Regions from separate parts of the Homo sapiens genome. Here region 1 is linked to region 2. The links come from fine-mapping of genetic effects on gene expression. A gene starts in region 2. The other region holds a variant in brackets. All regions are shown on one strand. Distances are between the middles of the regions. Region 1 has its middle 22 kb from the start of TMEM18-DT. Region 2 holds the start of TMEM18 (transmembrane protein 18).

Region 1 (4,390 bases), 22 kb before region 2:
CCCAAGTGATGTCTTTTGAAAAATTAAAAACATATTGAACCTTAAATACAATCTTGTATGATTGCATAGTTTTCTCACAGACTGGGTACAGGCCACAGTAAGATTGCTGTAAATCAGTGGCTCTGTCAAGTCTTCCCCGTGGCTGAGATAATACAAGTGTTCATGCTTTCCTTCAACGCCTAAACGGTACGTTCCACATTGTCTAGGAGCTTGGTTCACTTCCACCTGGACTCTCAGCTAGGGGTGGGGAGCCACAGAAGGGGTGGTCAACTTCTATCACCGGCCCCAGTCTCTGCTTCCAGCTTGTGGACTTTGTATCTGTATGACCTTGACAGCTTCTTGAAACACCAGCCACAGTGCCTGGCGTGTAGTAGCCTCGCATATTTGGGTGCCAGGGAGCTGACCCACTGGAGGTGGAGGTCCTGACAGTGAGCTGAGGCTGTCCTCATGGCGTCCACTGTGGGAAGCATGGGGCACCTGGGGCCTGGGGGTTCCCATCCATTTCCCAGGGTTCGCAAAACATATGCCTCTATCTACTTCTTAATGTGGGACAAATTCCTTCTCGTACCCAAACCATGTTTCTCCATGAGGTTCTTAGATTCTCCTCCCAAGCACCCTTTTCCAGCACAAATTTATTATTTCCCTGCTGTGCTGCAGCCCCGGCTCCTCCTGGCTTCGTGCCTCACACACCTGCCGCTGTCTCCTGACCGGGTCGCAGTGTCAAGTTCTTTACACATGTGTACGTGCAGAGCGGACACACAGACACCGGAGAAGGTGGGAACACATGTGGATGTGCAGAGCGGATGCACAGACACTGGAGAAGGTGGGAGGTGGGGAGTAGCTGAGGGCTGGGGAATTGCCTGTGGGATATGATGCTCACTATTCGGGTGACAGCTGCCCCACCTTCACCACCACACAATCCATGCGTGCAAGAAATCTCCACCCATCCCCTCCAAGTATATAAACATATGATGAGAAGGAGAAACACTCTACACAGAGAATGTGACCCAACCTTGCTTCTCTGTCCACTTCCTGCTCAGCTGGCACACAGAGTAGAGCATGGGCACCTCCCAAGACCACCATGGCCTCCTGGTGAGGAGGCAACACCACGGGCTTCCAGATCTCCTTGTGTGTTCCTCAAACTCTCCTTGCCGCTGAGTGTAGGACGCTGTTTTCTGTCTTCGGTGCTCGCTCTTCTGACATCAGAGATTGACAGCACTGAGTCAGGAAGGAGAAAAGGACTCTGGCTTTGGGCCACGACAGCTCCAGATCCCATACCAACATCACTGTGGACTGCAGAATTTTTCATTTTTCTGGAAATCTCTTTTTTCATCTAAAATATGGAAATAATATCATTTACCTTACAGGGTTGTTGTGATGAAATGGTTCACTCAAAACCACTTCCCAGGAGGTTTCTGATGTAAACATGGCTCCCAGCACTGGGGCACAGGGAGGACAGGCTCTGCCCTCGGGATGCACACCTTCCAGTGTGCATTTAAGGAAGTGCAAGCGAGTTCATCAGGGAGCAGAATGAGTTTAGATAAAACTTCTGTAATATAATATAAAGTGGGGCTTCTGGGTGGAGATGAGTGGGTGACACTTTAGATGGGGGCCCAGGAAGTCCCCTCTGAGGAGGTGATGGCCGTGCAGAAGCAGATCAACATAAGCCTCAGCCAGAGGCACGCTCTGAGCAGAGGCGGAAGCCTGCTGGGGCCACTACGAGGAAAGACACTTGTTCTACAGGATCAGTGCGGGTGCAGCACTCTGAGTAAGTTACCATCCTAAAAATGAGGCTCTCCGTGGAGGCCACGTCACAAAGGTTGTCATACACGTGGTGCAGGCATTGGGTTTTATTCTGAGGACCTAAGAGCGATGGAAAATTCACCACAGCTCTGCACAGGCAAAGGAGGTTGTCAGATGATGAGATTTTCTAAGTGAAGTATTTGAGTCTCACAGAGGAACATATGTATTACACATCAAAGTTATAAAGCCTAAGAAAAAATGAACACTGTGTTGTCTATGGCAAGTAGAACATTGTCAAACCATTAAAATATACCTGGACACTCCTCCCCCAAGAGAAAACCACATAATTAATCACACAGAAAAAATCAGCAGTGGCTGATTGCATTTTCCAAAGACGGCACAAGACAAGCCCTCATCACACTTGCTCCTTCACAGTGGGACTCTGACTTTGACA[C/T]ACCTACCAGGATATGGGGTGCCGTGTCCCTGTCCTGGGTCCCAGGCAGTCTTTGTGACTTCCCCTGTGAGTGGGATGACATGGGATGAAAAAGTGATGCACCTTGTTGTCTTGAGACTTTTGTTCTTGGAACCAGCCACCTTGTTGTGAGGCAGCCCAAGAGGCCATGAGGAGGCCTGTATGGCCTGCCCTGCCATGGCCCCAACCCACAGCCCTTGCTGCTGATCAACACCAACCAGCTAGTCACAAGGGCAAGTCCATGTGGAAAGTGAAACTTCCTGCTGCCCCAAGCTGAAGTGTATGAAGCAAAGGCAAGCTGTCTCCTGGGATCTCTGCCCAAGTTACAGATCTGTGAGCAACACTGTGACTGCTGCTGTTTTCATTAGCTGAGGCTTGAGGTTGTTCATCACAAGGTACTAGTAAGTAAAAGAGATTTTGTACCAAGACTGGGGTGCAGCCATAAGAAAACCCAATGCATGTGTCCTTAGTGCTGGGAAGTGAGAGGCACCTGAGGGCCTTAAGTGTCTGTAACAGGAGATGTTCTAGATTTTCCACATTAGGGATGAAGTGCTGCGATTACTTAACTGTTTAGATAGTCTTTATTAAGTTACAAAAGTTTTCCTTTTTTCCTACTTTGTCAATAGTTTTTGCTCGATTAGTTCATTTTGTTTTTCAGTTCATGAGTTTTGAATTTTATCAAATGTTTTTTTCTGAAGCCATTGAACTCTTCACAATTGTAAACTGAGTTATGTTGTGTTTTCTCTTCAATACACAGCTGGGTTCATTTTCTTAACATAGGCAAGTTTTCCATCTGCATTTATAGAAGTTTCTATGTGTTCTTTCTTGTGCTTCTCTTGTCTAGTTTGAGAATCAAGTTTGCCACAATAAACTTAAATAATGGACTTGGTTTTGTGTGTATGTTTTTATTTTTAAATTTTATTTAAAACATTATTTTATATATATATGTATTTATTTTTTAAGTTTTTTTCTTTCTTATCTTATTTTGGATTGTTTTCTTTTTCTGTTTTCTTGTCTCTACAGATTTGATGGTTATATACTACATTCATATTTCTTTAATAGTTACTTAACAAGGCCTGAAGTTAATTAGTATCTGTCTTAACTCAGACTGCTCTAACAAACACCACAAACTGAGGGGCTTAAACACCAAAAATTTATTTTCTCACAGTTGTGGAGGCTGGGCACTGAAGATCAGGGCAGGAAGGAGGCACCCAATTTGTTTCCTGTGAGGGTTTCTCCTTGTGTTCTTCTAAGTCGAGAGCTCAGTGGTGTCTCCTCTTATCAGAACACCAGCCTGATGGGACCATGCCCCGCCCGGTGACCTCCTTCTACCCTGATGATCTCCTTATTGGAGCCACCACCAAATACAGTCCCACTGGTGGCTAGGAATGGACGTATAAATTCTGAGAGCACACGATCCAGCCCATAGCAATATCTGTAGTCTTCTCCTAAAAAGTAAAGAATAAAGAGCTTGAACAATTAGATTATGTTCAATTGTGTTCTCCTGAATTATCGGTTACTGCTGTCCAGTACTTTATCTTTCTCTCTCTCTCTCAAATGCATGTTATTATTATAATATCATTAATGTCACAATCATCATAATTTTCTGTAATGTGTTTTAGATTTAAACAAATAACCAATTCATTTTCTTCCATAACTTCTTACTTCTTTTACTATCACCTGGTAAAAGGAGGACATCTCTTAGTAGTTTCTTCAGGGAGTCTGTGTGTAGTAAACCCTCCCAATTTTCTTCAGCTGAAATGTTTTAAATTTGTTCTTATTCATGAAATATAATTTTACAGGGCACACACATCCAGGTTGACAATTATTTTCTATCAGCATTTTAAGGGATTATTCCAAACTTCTCTTAACTTTTAGTATTGCTTTTGGAGGTCTGCAGTCTACCGAATTGTCATTCTTATTAGACAGTGCCAAAGTTTTCTCTCTGTCTTACATATTTTACGTTTAGACTGGTTATTCTCAATTTTACTCCAGTATGTCCAGATGTATCTTTGTTTTGTATTTATTCTGCTTGATAGACAGCATGCTTTTGTAATCAAATTGTTTACTCATTTTTTTGCAAATATAGTCTCTCTCTAATTCTTCTTGTTCTATCCTATTGTAATTACATTCAATATGTACTGAATCTTCTCACTTTATCAACAGAATTTTAAT
Region 2 (4,390 bases):
GTGCCCTGGGAGCAGGCACATGACAGAGGGTTGGGAGGTCTTGTAAAAATATGTATATATTTCGAAGACACAGACAGAACATACACAGTTTCATTTCACACAGTGATCTGAGTTGTGGAGTTTGTGTTGTTTTACTCACCTAGACACAGAAAGTGCCCGATCTGTAGTCTGTAGCTTCGGGAGGACAAGCAGGTGAGGAGCACGCAGAGCGCGTGGAAGGTGGCCAGCCCCATGAGCCAGGGCTCAGTCCAGTCCGTCTGCTGTAGGAACACACCAGCAGACACTCACTGTCCTGCCACTCAAGGCCGGGTTCACGGCCCACCCACAGCCTTCTCCCAGCGCAGGAGGCAGGGGCCTCTCACTCCTGAGTCCTCCTGGGCTACTCACCAAGTATCCAGAGAGCATTGCCAGGCCTCAGAGAAACATGGGGACAGGAAAGGGAGAAGGAACCAGGAGGATGGAAACAGGATTCTCCCCTCAGTGCAACTATAATTCATGGAATTCAAAGTTCAAGCACACAGAACTGAAGGCATCTCTGATGTGCTCCTTTCGTTTGTGGAACAGAATCATGTTTTTAAGGTGGGTATAATTAAAGGAATTACCATCCTTTACGATGATAATTGGTTATGATAATTGGTGACGACAAGGAAATTAAGACGATTGCTCAAAGAGATGCACTTGGCTCAGCCCCAAAGGTAAAACATGAATCATCATTTCAGACTCCTTAGTCAGCACTGAAGACCTCAGGGAATCTTGAGCCATCGCCACGTGCAAGACTTGATTTTCTCCAACCTCTCTGCAATACACTGAACTCTCCAGACAGTGCCGCACTCCGCCGCCTCCTGGACTCCCCGGGACCCTGCTGTACCTGGGGACAGTGTCTGGCTCAGGGACCTGAAGTAGCCAGGCTCAGATCCACTGCTGCTCAGTCCCCACCTGATGCTCAGATGCCAATCCCAGCAGTCCTCAACCCTCCCCATCCCCTCCTTGAGCGCCCTCCTGCAGAAGACAAGCCCTGCCCTCCAAGCTGCAGCCCCGCCCTGCCCTCCAAGCTGCAGCCCCGCCCTGCCCTCCAAGCTGCAGCCCGGCACAGCCCTCCAGAACTCCTGTGTCACTACTCTCTGCTGGGGACCGCAGCGGCTTCTCCAGAGCCGCGCCATGACATAAGGACACAAGCGCATCTACTCCCATCAATGCACCCACCAGAAGACCAGAGGCACGGAGGTGAGGGGAGCACGGCTTTCTGCCCAGACCCCATCGAGTGCCCATGTCACCCCTTGGCGGCCACGTGGGGCGTGGGCTCCCCTGGGATCTGTCAGACGAACCCGGCACGGCGCACGCCCCGCCCACACTGGGCAGCGTTCCTCCGTGCCACCCCACACGATCAGGCTCCACCACGCACGCCCCGCCGCACTGCCAGAATCCGCCCACATGGCCCAAGCCCCGCCCGCAAGACGCTGGACTGGCCGGCGTGCACCTCCCACACGAACAAAGCCCTACCCCTCGCGCTCCGCCCACACAACTCAGCCACGCCCGCACGGTGCAGGACGCCAGCCCAGCCCAAGCCCGGGCCACAGAGCGCCGGAGCCAGCTCACTGCGCACGCTCCTCCACAAGGCCCCGCCCGGCCCCGCCCCTCCCCGCCCAACGGCCCAGGACCCCGCCTAGCGCTCGCGCCCCGACGCCCGGCCCCGGCCCCCTCCCACAGGGCCCAGGACCCCGCCCACAGCGCGCGCCCCCGACGCCGGCCCCGAGCCACTCCCACAGGTCTCAGGACCCTGCCCAGCGCGCGCGCTCCGCCACAAGGCCCCGCCCACGGCCGGGGCCTTCTTGGCCACAGGCCGGGTGCTCTGTGGGGCCTACCCTACGCCTCTCCGCCGTCCTCCCCCGAACTGGTGGTTACGCGGGCCGCGAGTTACCGTGAGCACGGCTGGGATGCTGACGGGGAAAGAGCTGACAGAGAAGGCGGACGGCATGGTGTTGGGAAGCCCGCTCTCACAGCAACCGCCGAACCCGGCCTGGCCAGAATCCACAGAGGAGGGCGCCAAATCCTCTCTCGTGAGATCTGCCCTTCTCACGAAACTTGCGCTTGCTTCCTCTCGCGGTAATTTCATGGCATTGCTAGGTCCAGATATCGCGATATTTCCTGGTGGTCGCTGTAATACGGAAAACTTACTACGCTGCTGTGGGACTTGTGCTCGCTCCGCCAGGAGGCCGAGGGCGTCTTTAGTTCGTTAACAGAGGAGCAGGCGGAGGCGGGTGGAATTTAGGAGGTTTGTTTCAAAGGCTCAGGGCGCTGTACCGCCACGCCAGCCCTGTCCCACCTGGGACTCCCTAGAAGGGTCAGAGCATCAATGAGGACGGTGTCCGCCCCGAGACCCTGCAGGAGCCGGGGACATTGCCCACTCCTCGGACCCTGCAGGACTTGGGAAGGTGTCTGCTCTCGCGACCCTAAGGGCAGTGCACTCTTAGTCTGGGTCAGCTTAGGGTTATCTGTCTTCACTTTGGAGATTTACCAGATGTTCTTACGCTTCACTTCGTTGTTCAACGACAGATACAAAAATATAAAGTTAATTTTCTTCCAGCGAATTTTTTCCCTTTATTTTAACATCTATACCCCAACTTTGACATTTTCAAATTAAACATTCTGTTATTTTAACATCATGAATTATTAAGTGTATATACTTTAATTGCATATGTTAGCTCTTGAACTAGTTTAATGTTTCTAAAAATAGTTCTAGTGGTGGACTTTTTTTTTTTTTTAATAGCTTTAACCCCTCCCAGATCTTTCTTAAAATCTTTCCACAGTGTGGTCATTTCTGCTTATGCTACTTAACATGCATTCTCTCATTTCAGTGTAGAAGGTCATGGTTTCTTCTTATGGGAAAACATTTCTTTCATTGATATTTTTCTCTATTCTTCCTGTATTCAACTCCAGGAACATCCCGTTAGGTAGATAGTGCATCTTCCTCTCTTTTGTGTTTCTCAACCTTCCTCTCAAAACATCACGACTGTTGTTGCTGAGTTTGGGAAATCTCGGGCTTGGCTTTCCTGGTTTTTTTTTTTTTTTTTTAAGACGATGTCTCGCTCTGTCGCCCAGGCTGGAGCACAATGGTGGGACCTCGGCTCACTGCAACCTCCGCCTCCTGGGTTCAAGCTATTCTCCTGCCTCAGCCTCCCGAGTAGCTGGGATTACAGGTGTTCGCCACCTCACCTGGCTAATTTTTTTTGTATTTTTAGTAGAGACGGGGTTTCACCATGTTGGCCAGGCTAGTTTTGAACTCCTGACCTCAAGTGATTTACCCGCCTGGGCCTCCCAAAGTGCTGGGATTACAGGCATGAGCCACCGCACCCAGCTGGTGTGATGGTTTTCATCTGTGTCCATTCTCACTCCCCTGTGTTTGTTCAGCTATTTTCAACAGGACCTTTCAGTTACAGGGAATAGATCTGTCCTCTTCAGTTCAGCCTGTTACTGTGTATCTCCCTGATGATATTTCGTTACTATGTGAAACATCACTCTTATTAATTTCCATGGGTTAGTTTCATCGTCAGTCCTGTCTGGTGCCTGCCTTTCTTTTGTGGTGTCTGTTTTCTTGTAACTTCTGTAATTTGGGGTCAAACTCTTTTTGCTATTAATATTAACCACAGCCTATCTACGGTCACTGGGATTTTTTCTCTTCATCTTCCCCTCAGCCGCCCTCCCAGATCTTTCATATATTGTGCGCCCTGGCACCCAAGTTTCCAAAATTGTTAAAACTCTGGCCCTCAGCAGCTTCACTTTCAGTCCCAGGACATTCATCTTCCACATTCCTCCCGCCCTGCCGTTCTGAACAACGCTAGGCTGCCGGACATTTAGACGTGAAGCTTGTGCAATGTCGCCAGTCTGAGATGTGCTTTAATTTCAAACATACACCATCTTTCAAAGACTTTGTACCAAAATGTAAAATACATTATCAACAATTGTATTATTTTGCTTACATGTTGAAATTATATTTTGGACATACTGGACCAAATAAAATATATCAATAAAATTAATCTCTTTCTCTTTGCTATTTTAATGTGGCCAGTAGAACATGGCCTGCTCTCTCTGTTGGTATGTGAATGCTGACATGGACTCTATTCCATTTACCTGGAATTTTGTGCTTCCAGAAAAGACTGGATGAAGCCCCTCCCCTCCCTTCCCCTTCCCTCGCCACCCTTCTCTTCTCTTCCCTTTCCTTTTTTTTTTTTTTTTTTTTTTTTTTTTGCGTTTTGCTCTTGTTGCCTAGGCTGGAGTGCAGTGGCAGGGTCTCGGCTCACTGCAACCTCTGCCTCCTGGGTTCAAGCGATTCTCCCTGCCTCAGCCTTCCGAGTAGCTGGGATCACCGGCGTGTGCCACCATGCCAGGCTAA

Evidence for each region. PIP is the estimated chance that this variant, and not a neighbour inherited with it, causes the effect.
Region 1: its variant is fine-mapped to the expression of TMEM18 in sigmoid colon (GTEx, PIP above 0.99).

What each region holds. Positions count from the first base shown.
Region 1 is chr2:653,391-657,780 of GRCh38, forward strand. No RefSeq gene overlaps it. Among named protein-coding and RNA genes, the nearest start is that of TMEM18-DT, 22 kb to the right of the region's middle. The variant C/T (reference allele first, on the strand shown) is at 2,198.
Region 2 is chr2:675,371-679,760 of GRCh38, forward strand. It overlaps TMEM18 (transmembrane protein 18), which reads right to left and starts at 2,036. Exons shown (of 5, transcript NM_152834.4): 1 at 1,919-2,036; 2 at 140-260. The coding sequence starts at 1,975. TMEM18-DT (TMEM18 divergent transcript) reads left to right here and starts at 2,002. Exons shown (of 3, transcript NR_183417.1): 1 at 2,002-2,103. RefSeq lists enhancers at 1,311-2,076, 1,979-2,078, 2,109-2,178 and a silencer at 1,569-1,818.